Homo sapiens: one gene and its partners. The protein of the gene in region 1 interacts with the protein of each later gene in a biochemical or structural test. Each region holds a gene or a part of one and is shown on either strand. Other genes may lie near its edges. The genes, in order: IPO5, NOSIP and NUP214.

Region 1 (6,984 bases):
AGAGACTCCTATTTTACAAATCACTTGGCTTGTGTGAATTGACTATTTAGTGGCTGTGAGATTGAGGATAAGGGCTAAATCTTTTCTAACAAGAGGACTATTTAAAAACCAGAAGAAAATCATAGTATTTTAGCTGTGAACTTTAGGAGAAGCTTTAGAGAAAAGATTTTATACATATCTTTAGTTTCATATGGTAATAGGTTATAAAGCATACGAAATCAAAGTAAAGAGCTAGAGGTGATGGGGTACTGTTAAAATAGGGTGCCCAGGGAAGACCTTCCTAAGGGTGAGATCCAACAATGTATTGCTTTATGAAAATTAATTTTCTGGCAGAGCAAAGGTATTTAAAAGATTAGTATTAAAAATGCTCAACCTACTTTCTTCTGACTTCTGTAAAAAAGCACTTTTTTATATATCAGATTTTTAAGTTATAATAATAACTGACAACATTTTGATTTCTTTCTGTGTTTGAGGGATAACCTTCTATGCTTTATCTTATTTAATTCTCAAATGTAACCAATGAGCCTTCAACCATTTTGTCAAGAAAATTCTTTAAACATGTATTAATTCCTTACTGGCCTTTTGAAACCTTTTGAAACACTGAATTATTATTATTTTTATTTTTTACTTTTTTTGTTCGTTTTTTTTTTTTTGACACGGAGTCTCGCACTGTCGCCCAGGCTGGAGTGCAGTGGCGCGATCTTGGCTCACTGCAAGCTCCACCTCCCGGGTTCACGCCATTGTCTCGCCTCAGCCTCCAGAGTAGCTGGGACCACAGGTGCCCGCCACCACGCCCGGCTAATTTTTTGTATTTTTAGTAGAGACGGGGTTTCACCGTGTTAAGCCAGGAAGGTCTTGGTCTCCTGACCTTGTGATCCGCCTGCCTTGGCCTCCCAAAGTGCTGGGATTACAGGCATGAGCCACTGCGCCTGGCCAAAATGCTGAATTATTTTTCACCTTTCCAGAGTGGGGCGTATAGGATAGAAGTTGGCCCTTGGGATGAGGGGATCCTGACTGTAGTTGCAGCTTCCCCCTTAACTAGCTGTGATCCTGAACTGGGCTGTCAATGCTTCCTGAGGCCTCCATTTCCTCATCTGTAAATTGGGGCGAGTTGGGCAGCACCCTAGGGGATCCTCCCAGCTCCGGCGTCTGAGGACCATCAAGTCGGTTATGTCACTGGGTTGTGGTAGAGTGGTGGATACACAGGCCACTTAGGCTTGCTTGCCCTGAGGTGAAATTGTTCTGGAACTCTGGGATTTCAACTCTTATATTTCTGCCTGTGTTTTGGAAGTGTTTTCCCCGCTCATTTTCTCCATCAGACAGTGTCATTTATTGTAGCTGCCAACATAAAATGACAACTGTCTCCACTTGTCAGCTGCTCTCATCATCTGGTTTGCTGTGTGCTTTGGAAGGCAGATGACCAAGCATGTATGAACTAGGCACAAGAGTATATGAACTCAGCACAGAGAAGACAGCTGAGGATATTTCCTGTAGAGTAGCATGCATGAACTTTATAAGGTATTTGGCCACTTAGGTATTTTTCTTTTTTTTTTTTCGTGATAGGGTCCCACTCTGTCACCCAGGCTGGAGTGCAGTGGCACAGTCATGGCTCACTGCAGTCTTGACCTCCCCAGCTCAAGGAATCCTCTCACCTCAGCCTCCTGAGTCCCTGGAATTACAGATGCATTCTGCCATAACTGGCTACTTTTTTCTATATTTTGTAGAGACAGGGTCTCACTATGTTGCCTAGGCTGACCTTAAACTCCTAGGCCCAAGTGATCCTCCCACCTCAGCCTCCCAAAGTGCTGGGATTATAGGTGTGAGCCACTGTGCCCGGCCGGTATTTTTCATTTGGAGGTTTATAATTGCATTCCAGAGTTTTAACTCTACTGGAAAGCTAACACAATGTTCCAACACAAATCTGTCTCGCATACTAGTTAGTGTCTTTGAGGTTCCATCACAGACAAATGACGGAAGAAAGCAAAACTGTTTAGGAAGGTCTAAATTAAACATTCTATAATAAAGGCATTAGCATTTGACAAGTCCCTGGTATCTAATACTTTATAAGATGACAATGAGCCTTTTTTACCCCTAGTTAGGGGATTAAGTTCTAGGAGAAGAAGTTAACCAGGTGGTTCCTTAAGTAAGTAATCTTTTGACTACTTAGGGATTGATTTTGTTTTCCCATAATGAAAATGAATTCTGTTTTCCTTCATTTACTTGACTTTAGTGATCTCTGAAAACTAAGATAAAATATACTCGGCCTCTGAGGGAATACAACCATAATGTACAGAAGACAAAATAGATACTCTAAAGATTTTAAATGGAACATCTTGGGATTTGAGAAATTAAAGGCAGTGAAAATCATACTGCTTCTAAGCACTTTTTATTCTCCCTATAGGAAAGCAGGGTAGATAATCCTGATGGGTTGGATTTCAATTAATTGGTGAATAGAAGGTAAAATGATCAAGAAACAGATATCATAATTATAGGAGAAAATAGCAGGAGCTTTTTGTTTTAAAGGAAATAAAGAATAGAATTCACAGTGAAGAGAGACAGAACAAAATCTGATAATTCTAGACTCACTTGAGTGCCGCAAGTATCCTGATCAGGGAAAACAGTTGTGCCTACACATGGGTCCTGGAAAGGCTTCTCCCCGGAACCACCTAAGTGAAATAAAAACTGATTTCTGACTGTTTCAGGATGGCAACACAGACCTTTAGGATAATAACCCACATTCTTTTGGGCAACTCTAATCAAGTGATGCCTCCTTAAGGATACAGAGTTAGTCCCCAGCTCACGTAAGGCACAATACCAAAGAACAATGAGCCATCATGAAATCGTCATTGTTTCATACTTGGTTTTTGTGTAGAATGTTCTCCAAATCATTGTCTCTGACGTTTCCTTCCTCTTGGGTATGACTGTGGTGACGTCAGGAGACGAGCTAAAGGGACCTCCTGGATCTCACAGGGAAACTCTTTCCCTCCAGTATCACGCTAAATTGTTCCTCAGTGCAGATGAAATTCTTAAATGGTTTCATCTGAATGTGAGGTTTTGGGATGACTTACTGTGGTCAGAGCTGTTCCCGGCTGCTCCAGTTGTGGGAGGTCATCAATCCCACAGTTCTGACCTCCTGGCTCAGAGACGTCACCGTGGAGACACCTGGCTGCTATTGTGACACGCAGGAGGTCAGCTGGCTCCTGCTAGTGGGCATTTACACTGCCCACCCTGCCAGCTTCACAGGCCCACACTGCACAGGCATTTAGACGTTACAGGGTAGCCCAAGCTCCCAAAGCTGTGGAAAGGAAAGGGAGCTATCTATTGGCCTTTGAGAACTCAAAACCCATGTTGCTGGGGGCCACTCAGATTGGGTACAAATGTGTCATCAAATTCAGTTTTGAAACTGTCTGAGTAGCTTCTTTACCCACAGATTTTGATTCTATTCACTACTCAATACTGAAAAGAGAAATTGATCTCTCAAATAGACAAAGATAAATTTGTATGGAAACAACAGGAAATTCCATATTACATACGTTTATGTCAACTGGGTTTGTGATTAAATTACTTTTTCTTTTATTTTAGTTGACATGTAATAATTATAAATATTGGCTGGGCGGGGTGGCTCATGCCTGTAATTCCAGCACTTTGGGAGGCCGAGGTGGGAGGATCATTTGAGCTCAGGAGTTCAAGACCAGTCTTGGCAACATGGCAAAACCCCATCTCTATGAAAAATGCAAATATTAGATGCGTGTGGCAGTGCACACCTGTAGTCCCAGCTGCTCAGGAAGCTGAAGTGGGAGGATCATCTGAGCCGGGGGAGGTTGAAGCTGCAGTGAGCTGTGATTGCACCACTGCACTCCAGCCTGGGCAACAGAGTGAGACCTTGTCTCAAAAAATAAACAATAAAAAATTGCAGATATTTATGGGATGTAATTAAATTTTTATATGACAGATTAACATCAATTTTGCCCTGTATTCTCATGGATCTCAATGCCCTAGCTTTGTACATTTAGCTTTTCTTTTTTTTTTGAGACAGATTCTCACTCTGTTGCCCAGGCTGGAGTGCAGTGGCGTGATCTCGGCTCACTGCAACCTCCACCTCCCGGGTTCAAGAAATTCTCCTGCCTCAGCCTCCCAAGTAGCTGGGATTACAGGTGCCCACCACCATGCCCGAATAATTTTTGTATTTTAGTACAGATGGGGTTTCACCACGTTGGCCAGGCTGGTCTTGAACTCCTGACCTCAAGTGATCCATCTGCCTCGGCCTCTCAAAGTGCTGGGATTACAGGCATGATCCCCTGCGCTGGCCTAGCATTTTGTTGTTTTTATTAATTCAGATCATTAATTAAAGCCAAACTCCATTTTTGTAATTATTTATTTCTTTTTTTTTTGATACAGAGTCTCTCTCTGTTGCCCAGGCTGGTGTGATCTCAGCTCACTGCAACCTCTGCCTCTCTGGTTCAAGCGATTCTTCTGCCTCAGCCTCCCAAGTAGCTGGGATTACAGGCACGCGCCACCATGCTCGGCTAATTTTTATATTTTTAGTAGAGACGGGGTTTCACCATGTTAGCCAGGATGGTCTCGATCTCCTGACTTCGTAATCTGCCCACCTTGGCCTCCCAAAGTGCTGGGATTACAGGCATGAGCCAACGCACCCGGCCTATTTTTGATTTTTAAATTGTTTCATAGGACATGGGCAGACTCCTTTGTATAGGTCACATTTTTTTCTTGGTAACGTGTGATGTCTAAGCACTTTCTAGTGTCACCCCGCATATCCTGAAAGTTCTTCAGCACTATTCCTTGCTTCTTCGTCCTCATCCTATGTCACTGGTTCTTTTTTTGTTTTTGAGACAGGGGTCTCATTATGTTACCCAGGCTGGTCTCGAACTATGGGCTCAAGAGATCCTCCTGCCTCAGCCTCCCAAGTGGTTGGGACTGCAGGAGCTCGCTACTGCACCTGACTTCTAACATTTTGGCTTGTGGGCAGGTGTCTTCATGGCATTTTGCTCAAGCATCTTACCAAGGGTCTGATACCAGAATTTACATAGATTCAGAATCAGCGATTGAATGGTTACAAGGTTACTGCAAAATGTATGAAGAACATTTTATTTAGTTACGTATTTGTTTATTTTTTAGTTCTTTTTTTAGAGACAGTCTTGCACTGTTACCCACCCTGGAGTCCAGTGATGCAATCATGGCTCACTGCATGCCCCACCATACTTGGTTAATGTTCTAAAAAAATGTTTGTAGACGTTGGGGGAGGGTCTCACTGTGTTGCCTAGGCTGATCTTGAACTCCTGGCCTCAAGTGAGCTGGGAGCACCTTGGCCTCCCAAAGTGCTGGGATTACAGGGGTGAGCCATTGTGCCCTTCCTGAAGAACATTTTAAAAGAACAAATCCGAGAAGTTTCTCCAGTGCCTATGACATTGACCAGTTGCTTGGTGTATTAGTCTGTTTTCATGCTGCTGATAAAGACCGTGGCTGGGCACAGTGGCTCATGCCTCTAATCCTAGCACTTTGGGAGGCTGAGGTCAGGAGTTCGAGACCACCCTGGCCAACATGGCAAAACCCTGTCTCTACTAAAAATAGAAAAATTAGCTGGGCATGGTCGTGGGTGCCTGTAGTCCCAGCTACTTGGGAGGCTGAGGCAGGAGAATCACTGAACCCAGGAGGTGGAGGTTGCAGTGAGCCGAGATTGTGCCACTGTACTCCAGCCTGGGTGACAGAGCAAGACTTGGTCTCAAAAAAAAAAAAGAAAAAAAAAAAGACATACCTGAGACTGGGTAATTTATAAAGAAAAAGAGGTTTAATGGACTCACAGTTCCATGTGGCTGGGGAGGCCTCATAGTCATGGTGGAAAGCAAAAGATACATCTTACATGGTGGCAGGCAAGAGAGAATGAGAACCAAGTGAAAGGAGAAACCTCTTATAAAATCGTCAGATCTCGTGAGGCTTATTCACTACCACAAGAACAGTATGAGGGAAACTGCCCCCATGGTTCAAATATCTCCTACCGGGTCCCTTTCACAACACACGGGAATTATGGGAGCTACAATTCAAGATGAAATTTGGGTGGGGACACAGGCAAACCATATCACTTGGTTTTTTGGAAGGTGCCAGCAGACCTGACTGCACTGGCTGATCCTTGGGCATTCCAAACCTACACCAAAGACAGGATTTAGGGGAATATACATTGATTTCTTCATCAGCAGGCACAACCAGTGGAATACTGAATAGGAATCACCATGGTGGATAAGGGTAGGCTAGAAAGTCACATATAGAGAGCACTATGGTGGATATTTTGCATTGTGGCTTTATTAGTCCGTTTTCACAGTGATGATAAAGACATACCCAAGACTGGGCAACTTACAAAAGGAAGAGGTTTGTTGGGCTTATGATTCCACATGGCTGGGGAGGCCTCACAAACATGGCGGAAGGTGAAAGGCACATCTCACATGGCGGCAGACAGGAGAAGAGAGCTTGTGCAGGGATACTTTTTTTTTTTTTTTTTCCTGAGACAAAGTCTTGCTCTGTCGCCCAGGCTGGAGTGCAGTGGTGTGATCTCAGCTAACTGCAACCTCCTCCTCCAGGGTTCAAGCAATTCTGCCTCAGCCTCCCGAGTAACTGGGATTACAGGCACATGCCACCATGCCCGGCTAATTTTTGTATTTTTTTTTTTTTTTTTTTTTTGGAGACTGAGTCTCACTCTGTCACCCAGGCTGGAGTGCAGCGATGCGATCCTGGCTCACTGCAACCTCCACCTCCCGGGTTCAAGCGATTCTCCTGCCTCAGCCTCCTGAGTAGCTGGGATTACAGGTGTGTGCCACTATGCCCAGCTATTTTGTATATTTAGTAGAGATGGGGTTTCACCATGTTAGCCAGCTGATCTCGAATTCCTGACCTTTGGTGATCCACCTGCCTTGGCCTCCCAAAGTGCTGGGATTACAGGCGTGAGCCACCACGCCTGGACTCATTTTTGTATTT
Region 2 (7,110 bases), on another chromosome or scaffold:
AATGTATACACCCTTGTGACCACGACCCTATGGAGATACAGAACCTTCCTATCACGCTAAATACCCCCTCACGCCCCTTCCCGATCAATGTGCCCCCTGAGGCAGCCAGGGCTGCTTGCAGAAGGGCGACCTTGATCAAACACCCCAACTTGACCCAGGGTCCCCTCCACATGCCAGGCTCCTCCTCCGACTTCCCCCTGACCCCCAAGCTTCTCAGTGAACGTCCAACACCTGTTGCCTCCCCTCACCTGCCATCCGCTCCCCAGCCCCCACAACTGCCACTCATGAAGGTCACGGTGACCTTTTCATGGACACATTCCCCACTCTATTCTTAGTTGTCAACTCCCTTGACCCTCTGCAGTATTTGGCTCTGGGCACCTCGGCTTTCCCAGAGATGAGCTTGCTTGCTGTTTTGTGGCCAAGAACTGAGGTTTCTACATAGATGGGGACATTTTCCCTCCAAAAATAGGAGGAACACCTATAGAGGGAGCATTTAAACTTTTTTTAATTTAATTTGTTTTTTTTGAGATGGAGTCTTGCTCTGTTGCCGAAGCTGGAGTGCAGTGGTGTGATCTCGGCTCACTGCAACCTCCACCTCCTGGGTTCAAGCAATTCTCCTGCCTCAGACTCCCAAGTAGCTGAGATAACAGGCGCCCACGCCCAGCTAATTTTTTTTTTTTTTTTTTTGTATTTTTTAGTAGAGACAGGGTTTCACCATGTTGGCCAGGCTAGTTCTGAACTCCTGATCTCAAGTGATCCGCCCACCTCAGCCTCCCAAAGTGCAAGGATTACGGGCATGAACCACTGCACCCGGCAAACTCTTTGATTTTTAAAACTCAGTGATTTTTAAGATCCTGAGACCAGAAAGCGTGAGCGCCTCCAACCAAGGGTGGAAGAATAGCCAGTTTCAGGATTTACAAACTCTGAAAGCTGAGCTCTCCTGCCCCACACTATATTGTCTCTTTGGTAGGTCCAATTTCAAACTACAAAGCAGACTGCTGCCATCTGCTGTCACCAGCATTTCAGAGAGGAAACAGGCAAAGAGCAGGAGCGACCGATGTCAGCATAATCCCTACCTCACAGCACAGGAAACAGGCTCACAGCATGTCCCAGCTGGGAAATGGCAGAGCTGGGACTCAGACCCAGGCAGCCAGGCTCTGGAGCCATTCCTTTTAACTAGGTGACAACTGTCAGTTTTCCTAGGAAAGTCACAATCTCAGAAAAAAGGCCAATCAGGCTGGCCACGGTGGCTTAAACCTGTAATGCCAGCACTCTGGGAGGCTGAGACGGGTGGATCACAAGGTCAAGATGTTGAGACCATCCAGGCCAACATGGTGAAACCCCATCTCTACTAAAAATACAAAAATTAGCTGGGTGTGTTGGTGCGCGCCTGTGGTCCCAGCTGCTCGGGAGGCTGAGGCAGAAGAATCGCTTGAACCCAGGAGGTGGAGGTTGCAGTGAGCCCAGATCGCACCACTGCACTTCAGCCTGGCGACAGAGTGAGACTCTGTCTCAAAAAAAAAAAAAAAAAAAAGCCAATCCATTCCTTTATTTGTAGCCTTTGAAATCCAGAATGTATTTTACTCTTTCAGCACATCTCAGTAATTTCAGTAATTCAGATGCTAAATTTTCTTTTTTTTTTCTTTTTTTTTTGAGATGGAGTTTCGCTTTTATCACCTAGGGTGGAGTGCAGTGGTGTGATCTCGGCTCACTGCAACCTTCACCTCCCCGATTCAAGTGATTCTCCTGCCTCAGCCTTCCAGGTAGCTGGGATTACAGGCACCCGCCACCATGCCTGGCTAATTTTTTGTATTTTTAGTAGAGATGGGGTTTCGCCATGTTGGGCAGGCTGGTCTCGAACTCCTGACCTCAGGTGATCCACCCGCCTCAGCCTCCCAAAGTGCTAGGATTACAAGCATGAGTCACTGCACCCAGCCTTTTTTTTTTTTTTTTTTTTTTGAGACAGAGTCTCGCTCTGTTGCCCAGTCTGGAGTGCAAAATAGTGCAATCTTGGCTCACTGCAACCTCCACCTCCAGGGCTCAAGCCATTCTCCTGCCTCAGCCTCCCAAGTAACTGGAATTCCAGGCGTGTGCCACCATGCCCAGCTCATTTTTGTATTTTTATATTTGTATTTTTAGCACAGATGGGGTTTCACCACATTGGCCTGGCCATCAGATGCTAAATTTTCATTGGAGATACTTTAAAATATATATATATATATGGCTGGGAGCAGTGGCTCACGCCTGTAATCCCAGCACTTTGGGAGCCCAAGGCGGGCAGATCACCTGAGGTCAGGAGTTCAAGACCAGCCTGGCCAATGTGGCGAAACCCTGTCTCTACTAAAAATGCAAAAATTGGCTGGGTGTGGTGGCAGGTGCCTGTAGTCCCAGCTACTCGGGAGGCTGAGGCAGGAGAATCGCTTGAACCTGGGGGCAGAGGTTGCAGTGAGCCAAGATCGGGCCACTGCACTCCAGCCTGGCCAACAGATCAAGACTGTGTCTCAAAAAAAAAAAAAAAAAAAAAGCCCGGCTCTGAAGCAGACCCTGGCTCTAAGCATTTTACTGAATATCATAACACCTCAAACGGTCGAATATCACAACACTCCACTGAATATCACAGCACCTCAAATAGTTGCTATAAATGAAGAGAGGCACAGAGGCGGTGCCCTAGGTTATGCAGCTAGTGAGTCCTACAGCTGTGTTTGATCCAAGCACCTGTGGCTTTGACCATCCACTGTGCCAGCTGGCTGCAGGCGGCCTCAGGCACTGTGCTGAACTCTGGGAGTGGATCAGACAGCTAGTGTGTGTCTTGTCCTCCCCTGAAATCCTGTCTCCTTTCTCCTCCAGAGCACTGCCAAGGTTTGCCTCCTCCAAGAAGCCTGCCTCTCCGGGATCAGTTAGGTTCTCCTTGCACTTGACCGTGCCCTGAGCTACCTCCGTTACAGCCCGTCCCTCGGTATTTCGGCTCCAGAGTAGGGGCCCTGGTTGGTGGGGCCTGGGTTGAACTTCAGCCTGGGTCCCAGCATTGCCTGGCACCTGGGAGGTCTCAGAGATGTCATGATAGAATCAATGAACCACCTCCAATCCTAGGGCCAGGGGAGGTGGGTTAGCAATGAACTAACCATGCAGCCATGACATCATGCCATTAATACACTAATAATTCATTAGTAACATGTGAATCACAGAAGCACTGGAAGAACAGAAGTAATCATCACATCCTTCAACCCCTTAAGAATCAGACCTTGTGGGAAGCACTTTCCACATGTGAACACATTCGGTCCTCATGACAACCTCCCCACGTTCTGCCCATTTATTTTATTTTATGTATGTATGTATGTATGTATGTATTTATTTTGGAGACAGTCTCACTGTCACCAGGACTGAAGTATTTTTTTTTTTTTTTTTTTGGAGACGGAGTCTCACTCTGTCACCCGGACTGGAGTGCAGTGGCACGATCTTGACTCACTGCAACCTCCACCTCCCAGGTTCAAGTGATTCTCCTGCCTCAGCCTCCCAAGTAGCTGGGATTACAAGCACACACCACCATGCCTAGATACTTTTTTTGTATTTTTAGTAGAGACGGGGTTTCACCATGTTGGCCAGGCTGGGTCTTGAACTCCTGACCTCAGGTGATCTACTACCTCGGCCTCCCAAAGTGCTGGGATTACAGGCATGAGCTACCGCGCCCAGTCTTGCTCATTTAATAGGTAGGAAAATTGAAGCTTGGAGAAATTGGCCTCTTCCTCAGTCTATTCCTTGACAAACCAGCCTCAGGGGGGCTTTTCAGAATGGAAGTTTGATTAAGTCACTCTCTTCAACTGCTTCTTGGACATGACTCAAGACAAAAACCAAATTATTCAGACTAAGTGTAAGAGAAATGGGAGAATAGGAAAACTGCCATTTTGCAACCTCTGGTGAAATAGCTGACTCAGGCAATGATTGTTGATGGATGGCATTAAAGGAGAGGCTGATGGGGCCTGGATAGTCACAGGATGCTAATTCTTGCTACTGGAAAATACACAGTTGTAGCTTTACAATGCGGTTTTCGATGGCTGCCACCTGTCTCAGTCTGCTCCAGCTGCCATAACAAAACACCACTCTGGGTGGCTTAAACAACAGACCTATTTTCTCCAGTTCCTGAGGCTGGAAGTCTAAGTTCAGGCTACCAGCATTGTGGGGTTCTGGTGACACCCTCTTCCTGGTTTGCAGATGGCTATCTTCAGTGGCAGAGAGAAAGCTCTCTGGTGTCTCCTTCTGTTTTTTGGGAGGAGTCTCACTTTGTCACCTAGGTTGGAGTGCAGCGGCGGATCTCGCCTCCCAGGCCCAAGTGAATCTCCTGCTTCAGCCTCCTAAGTAGCTGGGATTACAGGCGTCCACCACCATGCCTGGCTAATTTTTTTTTTTTTTTTTTGAGACGGAGTTTCGCTCTGTCACCCAGGCTGGAGTGCAGTGGCGTGATCTCGGCTCACTGCAAGCTCTGCCTCCAGGGTTCATGCCATTCTCCTGCCTCAGCCTCCCGAGTAGCTGGGACTACAGGCGCCCGCCACCATGCCCGGCTAATTTTTTTGTATTTTTAGTAGAGAGGGGGTTTCACCACGTTAGCCAGGATGGTCTCTATCTCCTGACTTCGTGATCTGCCCACCTCGGCCTCCCAAAGTGCTGGGATTACAGGCGTGAGCCACTGCGCCCGGCCTCATTTTTGTATTTTTAGTAGAGACAGAGTTTCACCATGTTGGCCAGGCTGGTCTTGAACTCCTGATCTCATGTGATCCACCTGCCTTGGCCTCCCACAGTGCTGGGATTATAGGCATGAGCCACCATGCGCAGCCTCCTCCTATTATAAGGACACCAATCCATCAGATTAGGGCCCCACTCTTTCACCTTAATTATCTCCACAAAGGCCCTACCTCCAAATATAATCACCTTGGGGAATTAGGGCTTCAATATACGAATCTGGGGGGGACATTCAGTCTATAATGCTGCCTGAGCCTGAATGAATTTCACTACCCCTGAAAATGGGGCACCCAGGCAGTATGCAACATGAAGCGACCAGCTCTGAAGTAATCACCTGACAGCTGAATGGAAATTTAATCAAGTCTTTACATTCAATTTCCTGATTCTAGGAAGTCAGAGGATATAGCAGGGAATAACAAAAAAGGGCCAGAGAGTAAATGTTTTGAACTTTGCAGGCCAAACAGCCCCTGTAAGTACTCCACTCAGCCCCTGTAGCATAAAAGCAGCCACAGACACACAAACGGGCATGGCTGTGTTCCAATAAAACTTTACTTTTAGACTCTGACACGGAATCACATATAATTGTCATAGGTCACCAAATTCATTCTTTTGGTTTTTTCCAGTTATGTAAAAACGTTAAAAACCAGGCCAGGCGCAGTGGCTCACGCCTGTAATCCCAGCACTTTGGGAGGCCAAGGCGGGCAGATCGTGAGGTCAGGAGATTGAGACCATCCTGACTAACACGGTGAAACCCCGTCTCTACTAATAATACAAAAACAAAATTAGCCGGGCGTGGTGGCGGGCGCCTGTAGTCCCAGCTACTCCGGAAGCTGAGGCAGGAGAATGGCATGAACCCGGGAGGTGGAGCTTGCAGTGAGCGGAGATCACGCCACTGCACTCCAGCCTGAGCGACAGAGCGAGACTCCATCTTATAAAAAAAAAATGTTAAAAACCATTTTTAGTTTGCAGGCTGAACAAAAACAGGTAGCAGTTACAAAAGTCAGATATCTCCTGGCTGTTGTGGCTCATACCTGGATAGGGTGCTTTGGGAGGCAAAGGCAGGAGGATCACTTGAACTCACGAGTTCAAGACCAGCCTGAGCAACATGCCAAAACCCTGTCTCTACCAAAAAAAAGCAGCAGCAGCATGGTTTTTGAGACCAGACTTGAACTTGCTATGGGCAACATAGCAAGACTCCATCTCCACAAAACAAAATTTAAAAAATTAGCCGGGCATAGTGGCATGCGCCTGTGGTCCCAGCTACTTGGGAGGCTGAGGCAGGAGGATCACTTGATCCCAGGAGGTTGAGGCTGCAGTGAGTTATGATCGTGCCACTGCACCACTGCACTCCAGACTGAGTGACAGAGTGAGACCTTGTCTCTGGGGAAAAAAAAAAAAATGCCAGGTGAGGTGGCTCACACCTGTAATCCCAGCACTTTGGGAGGCCGAGGTGGGCGGATCACCTGAGGTTGGGAATTCGAGACCAGCCTGACCAACATGGAGAAACCCCATCTCTACTAAAAATACAAAATTAGCTGGGCGTGGTGGTGCATACCTGTAATCCCAGCTACTCGGGAGGCTGAAATGGGACAATCACTTGAACCTGGGAGGCGAAGGTCGTGATGAGCCAAGATCGCACCATTGCACTCCAGCCTAGGCAACAAGAGTGAAACTCTGTCTCAAAAAAAAAAAAAAAAAAAAAAAAATCAGGATATCTGATAAGGGAATTGCAGTGAGAATATATTAAAAACTTACAACTCAATAATGAAAGGACACCTAACACAATTTGAAAATGGGTAAAGGATTGGAATAGACAGTTCTTCAAAGATCTACAAATGGCCAATAAGCATGTTAAAAGACACCAGTTCACACCCCCTAGAATGACTATAATCAAAAAGATAAATAATAAGTGCTGGTGTGGATATGGAGAAACTGGAACCCTTATACATTGGTGGTAGAAATGTAAAATGGTACAGCCATTCTGGAAAAGTCACAGTTTCTCAAAAGGTTAAATAGTCACCTTTTGACCCAGCAATTCCACTGCCAATAGAAATAAAAACATACATCCATGCAGGCGGGGCGCGGTGGCTCATGCCTGTAATCCCAGCACTTTGGGAGGCCAAAGCGGGCGGATCATGAGGTCAAGAAATCGAGACCATCCTGGCCAACATGGCGAAACCCCATCTCTACTAAAAATACAAAAATTAGCTAGGCGTGGTAGCGCATGCCTGTAGCCCCAGCTAGTCGGGAGGCTGAGGCAGGAGAGTCGCTCAAACCTGGGAGCCGAGATCACGCCACTGCACTCCAGCCTGGGTGACAGAGCAAGACTCTGTCTCAAAAAAAGAAAAAAAAAGAAAAGAAGTATATCTTGGGTAA
Region 3 (7,110 bases), on another chromosome or scaffold:
ACCCTAAGCAGATTTCCTTGTATTGAATTACAACTTGGAAGCTTCATAGGTTAACCCTTGAAGTTTCTCTCTAGATTAAAATATGGGTTAAAAAAAAATCCTTAATTATAGAATCATAGATCTTTGAGACAGAAGGGACTTCAAGAAATTCTTTCATAACGCCATCTGCCCTAAGTTGTTATCAGGAGGCTTAGGTGACTTGCCCAAAGTCATAGATGAATACATAATGTCAAAAGTTCCTACATTTTGGATGTTCTTCCATTCCAAGCAGTTTAAGAATGATAATAATAGTGAGTGTTTATACTGACTGTGTGTGTTAGACTCTGTACTAAGTGCTTTATATGCCTTGTCCCTCGTTCATGCCTACCACAGCCTTATGTAGTAGGTACTATTATCTTCATTTTATAGGTAGAGAAACAGGCTCAGAGTTTAAGTAACTGTCCAAGGTCCCAACATTATTAAGAAGCAGAGCCAAGATTTTAATCTATTGTCTGCTATTTATTGGTTATTTTGCAATTGTGCATTCCCCTTCTGAGAGTCCCCCTAAGCATGTTAGAATAATTGATTGCCATTTTCAAAGTTGTGTTGAAATTGTCTATAGCAAATAGATTGATGCATAAAACAATCTTTTTTTATGGTTATGGAGAAAAATAAACTGATTTGAGATACCTTGTGTATTCAGTAATTTCCATTGAATATTAAATGTTTCTGCATTTACTATTTGTTAACTTATTTCACTTTTGCATATTTGTTTTAAAAGGCTAAACAGCAAAAACGCCCATTTGCCTATCATAAGCTTTTGAAAGATGCAGGAGGCATGGTGATTGATATGAAGTGGAACCCCACTGTCCCCTCCATGGTGGCAGTTTGTCTGGCTGATGGTAGTATTGCTGTCCTGCAAGTCACGGAAACAGTGAAAGTATGTGCAACTCTTCCTTCCACGGTAGCAGTAACCTCTGGTGAGTAATAAAGGCTTTCACACTGTAGCATACAATCATGGTCATCTACTTAAGAATTGATTTCTAGAAGTGAAAGTGGATAGCTTTTTGTGTTTTGGTTTTTTTTTTCATGACGAGGGAGGTTAAGGATGGAAGGTATTCTTTTTTGAGACAGTCTCACTGTGTCGCCCAGGCTGGAGTACAGTGGCATCATCTCAGCCACTGCAACCTCCACCTCCTGGGTTCAAGCAATTCTCGTGCCTCGGCCACCCAAATAGCTGGGATTATAGACATGCGCCACCATGCCCAGCTAATTTTTGTATTTTTTGTAGAGACAAGGTTTCACCATGTTGGCCAGGCTGGTCTTGAACTCCTGACCTCAAGTGATCTGCCCTCCTCCACCCCGCATATGCTAGGATTACAGGTGTGAGGCACTGTGCCCGGCTGAGAGTATTCTTTATACCCATAGTTAATGTCCTTGAAGCCAAACAGCATACATAATTTAACCTGAATGTACTTGGGATTTCTGGAGAAATATTTTGGTACAGCTGGTTTAGAAGTGTTTTTTGGGAATAATTGTTTCTGGATCTGTAACGGTGGTACTCTGAAAGTCATTTGTACCTTTGGGCGGAAAAGCATTTTAAATATTAAATGGGAGCAGGAGAATGATTTCTGGTTTTGTTTTTTTTTTTTTGTTTTTTTTTTGAGACAGAGTCTTGCTCTGTCGCCCAGGCTGGAGTGCAGTGGCGCGATCTCAGCTCACTGCAACCTCCACCTGCTGGGTTCAAGCAATTCTCTTGCCTCAGACTCCAGAGTAGTTGGGATTACAGGTGCCTGCCACCATGCCCAGCTAATTTTTGTATATTTTAGTAGAGACGGGGTTTCACCATGTTGGCCAGGCTGGTCTTGAACTTCTGACCTCAAGTGATCCGTCCGTCTCATCCTCCCAAAGTGCTGGGATTACAGGCATGAGCCACTGTGCCCGGCCAGTGATTTCTTGGTATTTGGAAACCTTCTCTGTTCTCCTTGTCTTATGTAAAGACTACAGAGTTTTCTGTATTTTGCAGCTTTCTGGGCAGTAATCTATTGAAAAAGCATTTTTAGCTTTCAATTCAATAGCCCAGTGATAAATCAATTGGCTTATATCGTTAAAATGATTTTACTTTTTTCCACTTTGCCTGATAGAGATGATCCTACAATCTTCCATGGACTGACAGAGGAATGAGAATTGATAATTAGCTGTGTGTGATAGATCTTATTGGTTTGCTCCATTTTCTTGTTTTCATTTGGTAATACTGTCTTTGCTCAGTGTGCTGGAGCCCCAAAGGAAAGCAGCTGGCAGTGGGAAAACAGAATGGAACTGTGGTCCAGTATCTTCCTGTAAGTTCTTATCTTGAACTTCAGAATTTTTCTTAAGTTGCCCACTTTTTTGGGGGTGGTTTGGGAGTATCTTTCTTGTTTTTCCTATTAAAAAGTAATTTATACTCATTGTAACAAATCCATCAGTGAATGAAGAGTGGAACTCTTCCCTTTCCCATAGTCCTTCTTCCAGAGGCACCCACTATGTTGTGTTGAGTAGATAGCCTTCCATACTTTTCTGGATGTTATACAAATAGTCTATGGGTAGCTGCTTTTTTTTTGTTGTTGTTTTTATGTAAAATGTGATCATACGCTATGCGCTGTTCCCCACCTTTTTCAGTCCATTCCATAAAAACAGCTCAAGGGAAAAGAGTTAGTGAAAAAACTATGATGATAATGCAGAATCACTCTGGGTTAAAGCACAGTATTTGTCTTTTAACTGAGTCTGTCTTTAAAGGTCTGTTTGTCTAACTATGGGCACCAAAGAAAATGGATACTCTTGTTGCATGTGCACTCTGTCATCCTCCCTGTGAATTTCTTGAAATAATGTTCACAAATATCCTTCAATATCAATTGAGTTGCAAGGAACCCCCATATGTCTATTGAGCCTGGACACGAAGGAGGGATTCACAGGTGGTGCTAAGGCCTTTCTTGTGCCTTCCTCCTCAAGACTGTTCTCTGGCGAGGAGGGGAGCAGAGTGGTGAATGTAGGTGGTATAGGTTTAAGGTTAAGGTTATGTTTCTTATTTGTTATTACCAAAAGTTACCTGAAATTTGGTACATAATCTTTTAGGACACTAACCTGTAAAAAGATAATGCAATTTTTTAAATTTTCTTGCTTTGCTGTTTGCCTTAATTTTTTATTTATTTATTATTATTTTTTTTTGAGAGATGGTCTTGCTCTGTTGCCCAGGCTGGGGTGCAATGGTGTGATAACGTAATGGTTCACTGCAGCCTCAGCCTCCTGGGCTCAGGTGATCCTTCCACTTCAGCCTCCCGGGTAGCTGAGACTACAGGCACTTGCCACCATGCACAGCTAATTTTTGTATTTTTTGTAGAGATAGGGTTTTGCCATGTTGCCCAGGCTGGTCTCAAACTCCTGGGCTCAAGCAGTGTGCCCACCTTGGCCTTCCAAAGTGCTGGGATTACAGACATGAGCCACCTCGCCCAGCCTTATTCCACTATTGATGATTGTCTGCATCAGTGCTAGTGGCGTTGCTGCTGCAAATGGTGTTGCATTGACTACTCTCATTACCTATATCTGAACATGTTCATGCGTTCATGCGTTTCTTTTCTTTTCTTTCTTTTTTTTTTTTTTTTGGAGACCAAGTTTTGCTTTTGTCACCCAGGCTGGAGTGCAATGACGTGATTTCAGCTCACCGCAACCTATGCCTCCTGGGTTCAAGCAGTTCTCCTGCCTCAGCCTCCCGAGTAGCTGGGATTACGGCACCCGCCACCACACCCAGCTATGTATTTTTAGTAGAGACGGGGTTTCGCCATGTTGGCCAGGCTAGTCTCGAACTCCTGACCTCAGGTGATCCACCTGCCTCGGCCTCCCAAAGTGTTGAGATTACAGGCATGAGTCACCACACCCAGCCACGTTCATGGGTTTCTGTAGGATGAAGTCCTGGAAGTAGATAGCACTATTCTGTTTCTTCAGTCTCTCCCGGCCAAGGAGATGGAACAGGTAGCATCTAAGGAATAGATTAGATTTGACAGTTTGATTGGTTTAGGATTTGTTTCATTTGATACTTTATTTTCCCCTCCAAATCTCTTTCAGACTTTGCAGGAAAAAAAAGTCATTCCTTGTCCTCCGTTTTATGAGTCAGATCATCCTGTCAGAGGTAACAACTGCTTTTCTTATTGGGCTGACCTCTAATGACATGTTATGTATATTACAGAAATTCAAAATCATGTAATGTACCTGCTCAGTGAGGTATTGGTGTTTGCTTTATGAATAATGTCACTATTTCAAACAGCTAATTAAGTCAGTGTAAATTATGGCCCTCTGGGTGACATCTGTGTTTCACGATAAATGACATGAAATGGATCCCGACTTTTTATTACAATTCTTCATAATTTGCCCTGATTATAATCCAGCAGAAAAATTACCATTTGGGGATGAGTTTGGGCTTCTTGGGTCATTGTACCTGTGCATTATATTTAGTCAATGAAATCAGGGCCTTTGATTTTTTTTTTATCCATAGTGGCTATTCCAAACATAAGCTGCTTTTTCTTGTATCTGGTTGCTGTCATTTTTATGAGCTACTGATTAAGATGTGTCTTTCAGTTCTGGATGTGCTGTGGATTGGTACCTACGTCTTCGCCATAGTGTATGCTGCTGCAGATGGGACCCTGGAAACGTCTCCAGATGTGGTGATGGCTCTACTACCGGTATGCCTGTGGAAGAAATTTCATTGTTTGAGAATTAGAGAAGTCTTCTAATAAAGCTGGAGGCTTTGATTTCAAGGGGTTTTTTTGTGTTTGTGTTTTTTTTTTTTTTTTTTGAGACAAGATCTCACTCTGTCGCCCAGGCTAGAGTGCAGTGATGCGATCTCACCTCACTGAAGCCTGGACCTCCTGGACTCAAGTGATCCTCCCACCTTAGCCTTCTGAGTAGCTGGTACTACAGGTGCACACCACTATGCCTGGCTAATTTTTTTTTTTTGGTAGAGATGGAGTTTCACCATGTTGCCCAGGCTGGTCTTGAACTCCTGAGCTCAAGTGATCTGCCCACCTAGGCTTCTCAAAGTGCTGGGATTACAGGTGTGCGTCACCGCACCTGGCCTGATTTCAGGTTCTTTTACTTACTGGCAGTGATTATGCAACTTCAGGTATAAGGTTTCCATGCTGCACCATGGGCCAGGGGTCTAAAATTGGAGTGTCCACAGCATGTTCTACTGTTATGAGGTTAAAAAAAAAATGATTTTGCTTAAGCTATAAACTATGAGTCTTGGTTAACTCGATAAATTTTAGAAAAGCAAGACAGTATCTTGATTTTTAAAATTATTTCATTTGCTCTCGAATATTTAATGCCAACAGTGTGCTAGGCACTGCTTTAAAGCTGAGTATATAGCAGTGATCAAGGTGATGGGCTTGCTTTTATGGTTTTAAGTTTGTTGTTGTTGTTAATTTTTATTTATTTTTTAGAGACAGAATCTCACTCTGTTGCCCAGGCTGGCATGTAGTGGTGCGATCACAGCTCACTACAGCCTCAAATTCTTGGGCTTAAGCCATCCTCCTGCCTCAGCCTCCCGAGTAGTTGGGACCACAGGCATGCACCAACACAGCCAGCTGTTTTTAAATTTTTCGCAGAGGTAGGGTCTTGCTTTGTTGCCCACGCTGGTCTCGGACTCCTGGCTTTAAGCAGTTCTCCCGCCTCATCTCTCAGAGCACTAGGATTACAGGTTTGAGCCACCACACCTGGCTGGTCTTACATTTTAATGGGATAGTCAATACTAAATGTGAGATCAAGGACTGATAAGAGTGATGGAGAAAATAAAGCCGTGTTAGGGATAGATGATGACTGGTATGTGTTTGAGATTGTGTGTCAAGGGAGGCCAATTTGATACTTGAAAAAGATGTCTTGTTTTTAACTCTTTTGGATTTCTAATAAGGTTGAGTTTTTGAAATATGTTTATCTAGATGCCTTATTTTAAGATTAGAGGTTTTTTCTATTCTAGGGGATAATATTAACACTAGTATTTATTAACTGCTACTTATGTTTCATGTACTGGGCTGGAAGTTTTGTATGTATCATTTCATTTTACACTTTACAGTAGCCTCTGAAGTAGGCTTAGTAGGTCTAGTATACACATGAGAACACTAAGTATCAGGAAGGTTGAAAAATCTGCATGTCTCGTGGGCAGAAAGTGGCAGAACAGAGTTTAAATGCAGTTCGGTTGATGGCCAATGTTTGTACTCCTTGTACTAAGTGCTGCCTTTATACCATGTCCGTATATCTGGACTTTGAGTAAATATTCTCATATAACTTTAAATGATTTATTATTTGAGATTCTTTTGCTGTGGGATCTGAGAAAAATTGCACATGAGAATTTTTTTTCTTGCTTTGTTCATTGTAGAAAAAAGAAGAAAAGCACCCAGAGATATTTGTGAACTTTATGGAGCCCTGTTATGGCAGCTGCACGGAGAGACAGCATCATTACTACCTCAGTTACATTGAGGAATGGTGAGCAGAGAGTCTGGACAGGGCATTCCTGCTCTCACTGGAAGATCACACCTGAGTCACCTTGTCCCATGTTGAAATCTTTTCTGATTGATTGATTGATGGATTGGCAGGGTCTCACTCCATTACCCAGGCTGGAGTGCAGTGGCACGATTGTAGCTCACAGAAGCCTGGAACTCCCAGGCTCAAGTGATCCTTCCACCTCAGCCTCCCAGATGGGACTACAAGCACATGCCACCACACCTGGCTTATTTTTAAATAAGTTTTTTGGTTTTTGTTTTTTGTTTTTAGAGATGGGATCTTGCTATGTTGCTCAGACTGGCTTCCCAAAGTACTGAGATTACAGGTGTGAGCTACCGCACCCAGCCTGAAATCTTTTCCATTACAGAGGAAAATGGAGGCTGAGATGCCTTGAACATATTTTCAGCTGATTCTTGATAATGTCTTTCTATTATTTCTGTTTCCCCAATCTTGAATTATTTATCTTAAATACATACTAATTTCAAAAATCTAATTTTCTCAATAACCCCTAGTGATGACTTACGAAAATATTGATATTCAAGGAATATATTAAAAGTTTCCTGAGAGCAGAGTTGCCCTTTGGAATGGAGATTACTCAAAGCAAAG

What was found.
Region 2: the proteins of IPO5 (region 1) and NOSIP form a complex in vitro, tested with the Homo sapiens proteins (one study listed by BioGRID).
Region 3: the proteins of IPO5 (region 1) and NUP214 form a complex in vitro, tested with the Homo sapiens proteins (one study listed by BioGRID).

The regions. Positions count from the first base shown.
Region 1 is NC_000013.11:97,949,801-97,956,784, reverse strand, and holds the start of IPO5 (importin-5), read right to left. Parts: upstream 3,111-6,984; 5' UTR 3,069-3,110; intron 2,683-3,068; exon of another isoform or gene 2,667-2,682; 5' UTR 2,587-2,666; intron 1-2,586. UniProt on the Homo sapiens protein: Functions in nuclear protein import as nuclear transport receptor. Serves as receptor for nuclear localization signals (NLS) in cargo substrates.
Region 2 is NC_000019.10:49,570,470-49,577,579, forward strand, and holds part of NOSIP (nitric oxide synthase-interacting protein), read right to left. Parts: intron 6,409-7,110; exon of another isoform or gene 6,290-6,408; intron 4,516-6,289; exon of another isoform or gene 4,122-4,515; intron 1-4,121. UniProt on the Homo sapiens protein: E3 ubiquitin-protein ligase that is essential for proper development of the forebrain, the eye, and the face. Catalyzes monoubiquitination of serine/threonine-protein phosphatase 2A (PP2A) catalytic subunit PPP2CA/PPP2CB.
Region 3 is NC_000009.12:131,128,519-131,135,628, forward strand, and holds part of NUP214 (nuclear pore complex protein Nup214), read left to right. Parts: intron 1-760; coding exon 761-959; intron 960-2,247; coding exon 2,248-2,318; intron 2,319-4,077; coding exon 4,078-4,141; intron 4,142-4,587; coding exon 4,588-4,691; intron 4,692-6,379; coding exon 6,380-6,486; intron 6,487-7,110. UniProt on the Homo sapiens protein: Part of the nuclear pore complex. Has a critical role in nucleocytoplasmic transport.